Linked DNA regions of Homo sapiens: region 2 is linked to region 1. Evidence: fine-mapped expression QTL. A gene starts in region 1. The other region holds a variant in brackets. All regions are shown on one strand. Distances are from middle to middle.

Evidence for each region. PIP is the estimated chance that this variant, and not a neighbour inherited with it, causes the effect.
Region 2: its variant is the best candidate, but not a certain one, in a credible set for the expression of ZC2HC1A in whole blood (TOPMed, PIP 0.80).

What each region holds. Positions count from the first base shown.
Region 1 is chr8:78,663,574-78,667,977 of GRCh38, forward strand. It overlaps ZC2HC1A (zinc finger C2HC-type containing 1A), which reads left to right and starts at 2,516. Exons shown (of 9, transcript NM_016010.3): 1 at 2,516-2,591. The coding sequence starts at 2,576. It overlaps LOC105375911 (a long non-coding RNA gene), which reads right to left and starts at 2,406. Exons shown (of 4, transcript XR_007060972.1): 1 at 1,432-2,406. RefSeq lists enhancers at 1,639-2,147, 2,148-2,655, 2,620-2,669 and a silencer at 2,330-2,549.
Region 2 is chr8:78,790,207-78,794,610 of GRCh38, forward strand. All of the region lies in intron 2 of IL7 (interleukin 7), which reads right to left. Among named protein-coding and RNA genes, the nearest start is that of MITA1, 12 kb to the right of the region's middle. RefSeq lists a silencer at 915-1,115. The variant T/C (reference allele first, on the strand shown) is at 2,693.

The DNA.
Region 1 (4,404 bases):
CAAAGTGGAAAGAATCAAGGTATGATGTAATAAAACACAGATACAATATCTATTTCAGTTAAGTACTAGTTTTGTGATCTTGACCAAGTCAGAAACATCTCTGAAAGTTTGTTTTCCTTTTTGTATGATAAGGAGGTCAGAAGATCTCGAATTCTTATTGATCTATAAATGTTATTTTCAGTTAACAAGATCACATGGCAGGTAGAAAAATTATGTACAGGTAAGTGCTTAAAAACATGAGAAGAAGCTGAGTTTCATTCATTTGAGTAACTGGCTAGTGATAAAATGGACTTGAAGCATAGAAGGTACTCAACAAACATTTGTTGAATGAATGCATGCCGAAAAATGGATTAGACTGGAGAGGAAGTAATGTCATGATACAGTGCCAAGACAAGACTCTCAGGCTAGGTATGTAGGCGGCAGAGGAAAGAACTTATTGAAGGCAGATAGGAAGAAGTCCTCTTTACTCAGGGGTCAGAATCAGGGAAAAGCTGCAGGAGCCAGGGTAGCTGTAGCGTAAAAGTTATGAAGAGACCAAAAGCATAAAAGTTATGAAGATACCTGTAGGGAAGACTAGCAATCATGTTTTAGAGAATTAAGATTCACAATAGAAATGCCTACTCAAATATATGTTAAACAACATGTCTGAACGCTTGGGTTTACACTTGAGGCAGCTATAATAAAAGGCAAGGCAAGGAAAGGGAGTGAGGAGCCCAATCAAATCACCATAGGCTTTAGAATTTAACAGACAAGAGTGTAGCCAAGCTCTACCATCCACTAATAATACAAATATTGACAAAATATTAATTGCTCTGAGACATCTAGAAAATGAACATTTTAATTCTGATAAATGAAGATTGTAGTATCTACTTTGTAGATTTCTTTTGAAGATTTGTGAATATATGAAAATGGCCTAAAACATGCCTCACATGATTTATTCTTTAATGCTATTTTTATTATTTTTAATGTTACTGTAGATTTTATGTCGAATAAGGTATCAGCCAACTCAATATTCGTCTTGCCTTCAGTGAAAGAACTTGTAATTTGTAAAATAATGGCTTCCTTATTTTTGTATTTTCTTCTGTGTGCTTTTTTTTCTCCTTAATGCTCTTTTAAAAGGCCTTCCCTCCCAACCAAAAATTCTACCTTTGCCTTAGTAGCACTAAGGAAGAAAAAGGACCTTTCCGCAGCACCCAGTCTAGAGTAGCTTATTGCCTGCAAGGCTATGGGTTGGCCAAGGAGGCCCAGGATCTCAGAGAAGCAGAAGAGCCAGGGGAACCAGGGAAGGGCGGAGGGAGTCATTGAGGCATGGTTGAAGTGGTCTTTACATGGCTCCACACAACAGATGGACTCTACCACATTCAAATGCACTTGGAGCACCTTCTCAGTAAGAGATGATGCCCCCTCAAGTGTTTGCTTGTTTAAACATACCTTCATGTGAGTGGAGAGTAGGAGGAATCCTGCTTCCTGAAGGTAACTGATTTCATAGTAGATGAAGTTAGATATGAAGTTAAACTCTTCAATTAAACAGATTAACAATAACATTAATCCGAGGTTTGTTATGGACAACACATTAATACTGGTAACTTGCCAGTAGATACGCTATAGTCAGCAAACAGTACAGCTTGTTTACGATTGCTAAATCAAATTTTCAAAGAAATGTAGTTCTGGTAATTGTAAGCAAAACCGTTAAAATGGTCTGAGTTAGTTTTGAAGTTACTTTCATCTTCAGGAGGTTTTGAACTCTGTTAGAGACGGGCGGGCCTCATTCTGTCAGGTTGTAGGTTAATTCCCCAACTCAAACTTCCCCGATCAAACATTGTCAGGCCAGGCGACTGTTTTGGTTTATGGATGATAAAGTATAGGGCCAAGGTAGGCCAAGAGTAGAAGACAGAGGGAGGGCTGGGTTTCACTTCTAATTTTTGGCCCAAGCTTTCATGGTGAGGAAACTGTTTTCAAGGGCTTAGAGCAATCGCAGTTCCACAATCGCAGATAGAAAGTATGATTTCTCTGGAAAAAAAGTGTCTTAACCTATGAAGCTGTGTGTGAAGATCAAGTGTAGGGGATACGCTGAGGTCAAGTCATGCGACCAAAGACCGGAAAACGGAGATTGCTGCATGCAAGCGTGCTGGGCGTTTGTTTGGTTTGCTTGCCTGCTTAAAGTATCCACTGGGAGGGATGGCGGCTAGAAGTCAGAGGCATTGACTGATTGAGGAACTGGTGAAGCGGAGCCCATGAGGTGCTGAGGTACTCTAAATAGGAGGATAAGGTATGAGGCAAAACAAGGCTGGAGTCAAACAAAGGCGCCGTTGCATCGCAGATTGCAACCTGAAGCGGCTCCCGGCTCCCTGGAGAGTAACCCGGAGAGACGGACAGGGGTGGCAGCCAGGAGGAGACCGCAGGAACCTCGCCTCCGCCGCGGCCCCGCCCCCACGGATCCCCGCCCCCGCAGTTGCGGAACCAATGGGAGCTCGGAATGTTAGCGGGTGGGAGGTGCGGCTGGGTTGCTACAGCCAGAGCTGGGCGGTGGCGGGCGCTGCTGAAGGAGTCTCGCTGAGCTCGAGGAGGTGGCGCGATGGAGGGACTGGAAGGTGAGGCGATGAAGGGATGAGGGCAGGACGGCTAGAGCGGGCCCGAAACAGCTGGGGACCCTGGACACCAGTAGCAGGAAGGCGAGGGCTGGTTCGGTGCGGCGGACCTCGCCGCGTCCCGCCGCGCCTCCGGAGGCTGGGGCCGAAGGGAACCGGACAGTCCCCGATGCGGTGGAGCTAACGCTACCAGGCTGCCCCGCCTCAGACGGTCTTCAACTGGGCTTTCCCGCCCGGAGCCAGATCCTGCCCCTGGCAAGACGCCTGCACGTCTCTTCCTACCATTTTCTGATCTTGCTTGACTCCTGAGTGCCCTTTTAGTGATCCCAGTCTCTGGCCAGATTTTGTTTTCCTTGTACTGGACTCTCTCCATTATTGTCCACGGCCTTAACACCAACAGGCCACTTTGTGCTGCAGCCCCGGGGTGTGTCTCCAGCCTCGAGCTCCTGACATTCCTTGGCCGATTTCCCTAGGTAACCGGCTTTTTACATTTCGACAGCATCTTCTGTCGGAGGGATGTCAGAGCATCTCCTAAGGAAGTGTCACTGGCCAGCTTTAGAGCCGGTACAATAGATTACCCGGAGGATTTGATGACTTATTCACGGCCGCTGTGTGAGGAAGAGCCTGTATTGGTTCCTTATCTTTGGGTTTATCTTTGTACTGTAACCATGACTCCAGATTTTGCTTTGTTCCCAGTTCTTTCACTTTTTCTCTATTCTGTTTACCCATTTTATCCTGTGTAATGAAAGCATTCACCTAAAAACAAAGGAAGGACAAAAACCACAATAACTAGCATTGGCAACAACAGTTTCAAGATTTTTTAATTTGTTATGATGAAGAACAAACCTTCAGAATTGAAAGATCCTATTGTCTTGATTTAGCTCCTTTCCCCCGTCTCCTAGTTTACACGGATTCAGTTGGAATTAAGAATGAGCAGAAGCTTTTGAGTCTTGTGTATTGTTGCATGCCAGGGAGTAAAATATTCTACATTGTGTGATGAAGTGCAAAGTGGTAGCCGGTAACTTTTTCAGTCACCTATTCACCAAAAAGCAGATGTAATAACATGAGTAGAAGTTTATTTCGTGCTTTTGCTCTGATAAATGATTCTGATAATTTTCCGTTTGTGGACAGCTGCAGTATGCTATGGCCTAATGAAGGTCTTGTTTTTTGCTTATGTGTTTTTGGAAGATAATTCAAGTTTCCATGAAATAAGGAATTGTAATGATAGTACAGTATATTTTACTTTCAAGATACTTTTGTATCTTGGTGGGATTAAAGCATGGGTTATGGAATTCTCATGAGATTATCATATATAATATGATAAGGTTTTATTACATATTATCTATAAAGTGTTTTGAACAGTTTGCAGATTTTTATTATTTTATTCAACATTTGTTATTAAGACAAAGATCATCATCTGATTTTTCACTTATGTATCCTAGGCACCTAAAACAATGTCTGACACAAAGTAGGTACTCAATAAATATTTGTTGTTAAATAAATGTCTATTATGGGCATCTTTTTAGGTTCTAGGTTGCAGCAAAGAATAAAAATGATAAAGCTTTACTCTCATCGAACCTACATTTTAGTGGACCTTACATTTTAACAGTGCTAAGATATTACTATTGAAACCTTACTACGAATGTTTTTAAAATATAATGGAAACCTATTATGACACTCAGTTGCATAGGTGGACAAAGGTAGGATTCTGTATTTATAGGCATATTTTATGGGTCCAGCTTATGATGTTATAGGGCCCAGCTTATGATGTTAATAGTGCTTGCCCTTTACTTTTAGATTTTTTTTTTTTACAAAA
Region 2 (4,404 bases), 130 kb after region 1:
TAGAAAGCGTTTGGCCATTTCTAGCAGCCTTTATATTTTGAAACAGCCTTTGCTGTGGTGACTAAGAGTTATGTAGTTCAACCATGTGAGTTATATTTAGGTAAAATAATTTTTTATGGATAAAAAATATTGTATAACATCCAAAACTAGTTCATATTGATATCAAAAAGTACCTGATATTTAATTCATAACAAATTTCCAAAGAACATATGTTAAAAAAACAGGCTTCCTAGATTATTCAAAATTAGCTCTGGGTTTTCATTAATTTATGGTGTTGATTAACAATCCATAAATTATTAATTAAACATTTGAAAAACTACTACGTGTAAGATGCTGGGCTAATAGTCTGTGAGATACAAAGATGACTCAAACATAAAATCTGTCCTTAATATACATATGGACTAGTACGGGGAAATAAGACACATACTTAGGTAAGTATACAAGGAGTGGAGAGTTAGAAATCATAGATAATTTTAAAATAAAGAAAAAATTCCATTTGCAATAGCATTAAAGAGACATAAGATACTTAGGAATAAATTTAACAAAAGAAGGGTAAAACCTATATTCTGAAAACTATAAAATATTGTTAAAAGAAAATTTAAAAGATACAAATAAATGGAACAAAAATCCCATGTTCATGGACCACAAGCATTTTTAAACATTATTACGAAAATGATGGTCCCAAATTAGTTTATGCATGAACCAAAACAATCTCAAAAAAAAAAAAAGTAAAATGATTCATATTTCCCGATTTCAAACTTATCCAAAGAAAGAGTAATAAAGACAGTTTGGTACTGACCCAGGACAGATATACAGATGAACAAAATGGAATTGGAGAGTCCAGAAATAAACCCATACATCTCTGGTGAAGTGATGTTTGATGAGGATGCCAAGATTATTCAAGGGGGAAAGACAAGTTCTTTCTTCTCCAAGTATCACTTATTTGTGGCTTTATAGGAAAACTATTTCTGTATCAATTTCACACCAGTCCCTGATCCCTCCCACCTTGGTGCCCAAATTGAACCATCTGAAATTTTATTATATAGATGTCACTACATAAAAATAAAATTATATATCAAAAGTAAGAAAATAAGGGAATTATGAATGGAAAGATGTTTTAAACAGATAGGACAATTACAGAGTTATACTTAGGCCAAGCACAGTGACTCATGCCTGTAATCCCAGCACTTCGAGAGGCTGAAGCAGGCAGATCACTTGAGGTCAGGAGTTTGAGAACAGCCTGGCCAACATGGCAAAAACCCATCTCTACTAAAAATACAAAAATTAGCTGGGTGTGGTGGCACATGCCTGTAATCCTAGCTACTTGGTAGGCAGAAGCACAAGAATTGCTTGAACCTGGGAGGTGGAGATTTCAATGAGCTAAGAACACACCAGTGCACTCCAGCCTGGGTGATGGAGTGAGACTCTGTCTCTAAATAAATCAATAACATTATACTTAATATATTATCATGTGCTCTTACCAAATGATGAGCATATCATCAAAATCTAATGGGAGAATGAAAACGGATCTTGAGAGCTATAAGGAAGAGAATACTCTTAAGCTCCCCACCACTTCTCTACAGTCTGTCATTACTTCTGTCCATGCCACTCACTGGACCATACTTACTAGTATATGGAGTCACATGGTTTAGTAATTGCTCAGAGATATGACATCACCAGAGAGATTTAGATTGCATTTAAATTATAAAGCTATTTAATATACTAATCCCTAAAAAAAGGTAGTCAATCCATAAAATAAATATCAGCAATTTCATCAGTATAAATGATTTTAAGAAAATAAAAACATAATTGAAAGACAAAACTGATTTCAAAACTAAACACCAAGCTACAGTAATTGAGACTGTCTGGTCCTGGCATAGGGATTATATATCAATGGATTACCATGGAGAGGTCAGAAATAAACCCATACATTTGAGTTCAATTTATTTTCAACAAGGGTGTCCAGACATTCAATGAGGGAAAATATAATTTTCAATATCAGATGCAGGAACAACTGTATAGCCACATGAAAAAGAATGAAGTTGGACCCCTACCTCACACCACGTACATAAATTAACTCAATATGAATCAAAGACCAACATGTGAGACTGAAACTATAAAGCTCTTAGAATAAAACATAGATGTAAATCTTTGTTGTCTTGGATTAAGCAATAGTTTCTTTGATATGAAAACAAAAACATGGGCAACAAGAGTAAATGAATTGGACTTCATAAAAGTTAAAAATGTCCTTCAAAGGACACTATCAAGAAAATAAAAAACAATACAAATGATGGGAGGAAAAAATATAATATCTGATAAAGGTCTAAGATCCAGAGCATATAAAGAACTCTTACAACTATAAAAATGAAAAGACAAATAATCCAATTTAAAAGTGGGTGAAAGATTTGAATAAACAATTCTCCAAAAGAAGATATATAAAATGGCTGATAATAACAGCCAATAATGAAAAGATGCTTGACATCATTAGTCATCAAGGAAATGCCAATCAGTATCACTATGAGATACTACTTCACACCCACAGAGATAGCTAGAATAAAAAGTTAGATGATAACAAGCTTTGGTGAGAAAGTAGAAAAATCAGAGCCTTAACTGCTGATAGAAACGCAAATGGTGCAGCCTCTTTAGAAACAGTTTGCAGTTTCTCAAAAAGTTTAACAGAGTGACCATATAA[T/C]CCAACAATTTGACTACTAGGAACATATCAAGACAATTGTATAAAAACTTGCATAGCCAAACAATGGAAAACCCAAATGTCCAGAAATTGATGAATGGATAAACAAAATGTGGCATATCCATACAACAGAATTTTATTGAGCCATGAAGAGAAATGAAATACTAACTCCTGTTATCATATGGATTAATTTTAAAAACATTATACTAAGGCAAACAAGATCAATACAAAAAGCTGCATATCATCCATATGAATTATATACAAGACAGATGTGAAATGTCCAGAATAGGCAAATTCCTAGAGACAGAAAGCAGAATGCAGAATAGTGGCTGCCAGAGGCTAGTGATGGGGAATAAAGAGTTACTGCTAATGGGTAGAATATTTCTTTTGGCAATGATGAAAATATTCTAGAATTAGATAGTGATAATGATTGCATAATTTATTGCAGGCATACCTCAGAGATACTGTGGGTTTGGTTCCACTGCAGTAAAGCAAGTATCACAATACAGTGAGTCATACAATTTTGTTTGGTTTCCCAGCATATAAAAGTTATGTTTACACTATACTGTAGTCTATTATGTGTACAATAGTCTTATGTCTAAAATAACAATGTATACATTTTAATTTAAAAAGAATTTTTTGCTGAAAAATGCTAACAATCATCTGAGCCTTCAGGGTGTTGTAAACTTTTTTGCTGGTGGAGGGCCTTGCTTCAACGTTAGTGGATGCTGACTGATCAGAGTGGTGGTTGCTGAAGGTTGGGTGGCTGTAGTAATTTTTAAAATGAGGCAACAATGAAGTTTGCCACATAGATTAACTCTTTCTTTCATAAAAGATTCCTCTGTAGCATGTGATACTGTTTGAAAGCATTTTATCCACAGTAGAACTTCTTTTAAAATTAGAGGCAATCCTCTCAAATCCTTCCATTGCTTTAACAACTAATTTTGTGTAATATCCTAAATTTTTTCTTGTCATTTCAGCAATGTTCACAGCATCTTTACTCAAAGTAAAATCATTTCAAGAAACCACTTTCTTTGCTCATGCCTGAGAAGCAACTCATCATCCATTCCAGTTTTATCCTGAGATTTCAGCATTTCAGTCACATCTTCAGGCTCCACTTCTAATTCTAATTCTCTTGCTATTTCTACCATATCTGCATTTACTTTCTCTATTGAAGTCTTGAACCCCTCAAAGTCATCTATGACAGTTGGAATCAACTTCTTCCGAACTCCTGTTAATGTGGATATTTTGACCTCCTCCCATGAATCACAAATGTTTTTAAGGACATCTACTACAGAACAATGAATGCTGTTCACAAGGTTTCAATTCTTTGCCCAGATCTATTAGATGAATCATTATCTCTGGCAGCCATAGCCTCAAAAATACATGGCTTAAAAAATAAGGCTTGAAGGTTGAAACTACTCTTTGATTCACGGGCTGAAAAACAGATGTTATATTAGCAGTTATGAAAACATTAATATCCATCAGCACTCTTGGGTGACTAGTTTTGCATTGTCAATGAGCAGTAATATTTTGCTAAAACTTAAAGTCACCAGCTGCATTTGTCCCTAACAAGAGAGTTAGTTTGTCCTCTTAAGCTTTGAAGCCAGGCATTGACTTCTCTTCTTTAGCTATGAAAGTTCTAGATGTCGCCTGTTTCCAGTAGAAGGATGTTTCATCTACATTGAAATCTGTTGTTTAGTGTAGCCACTTTT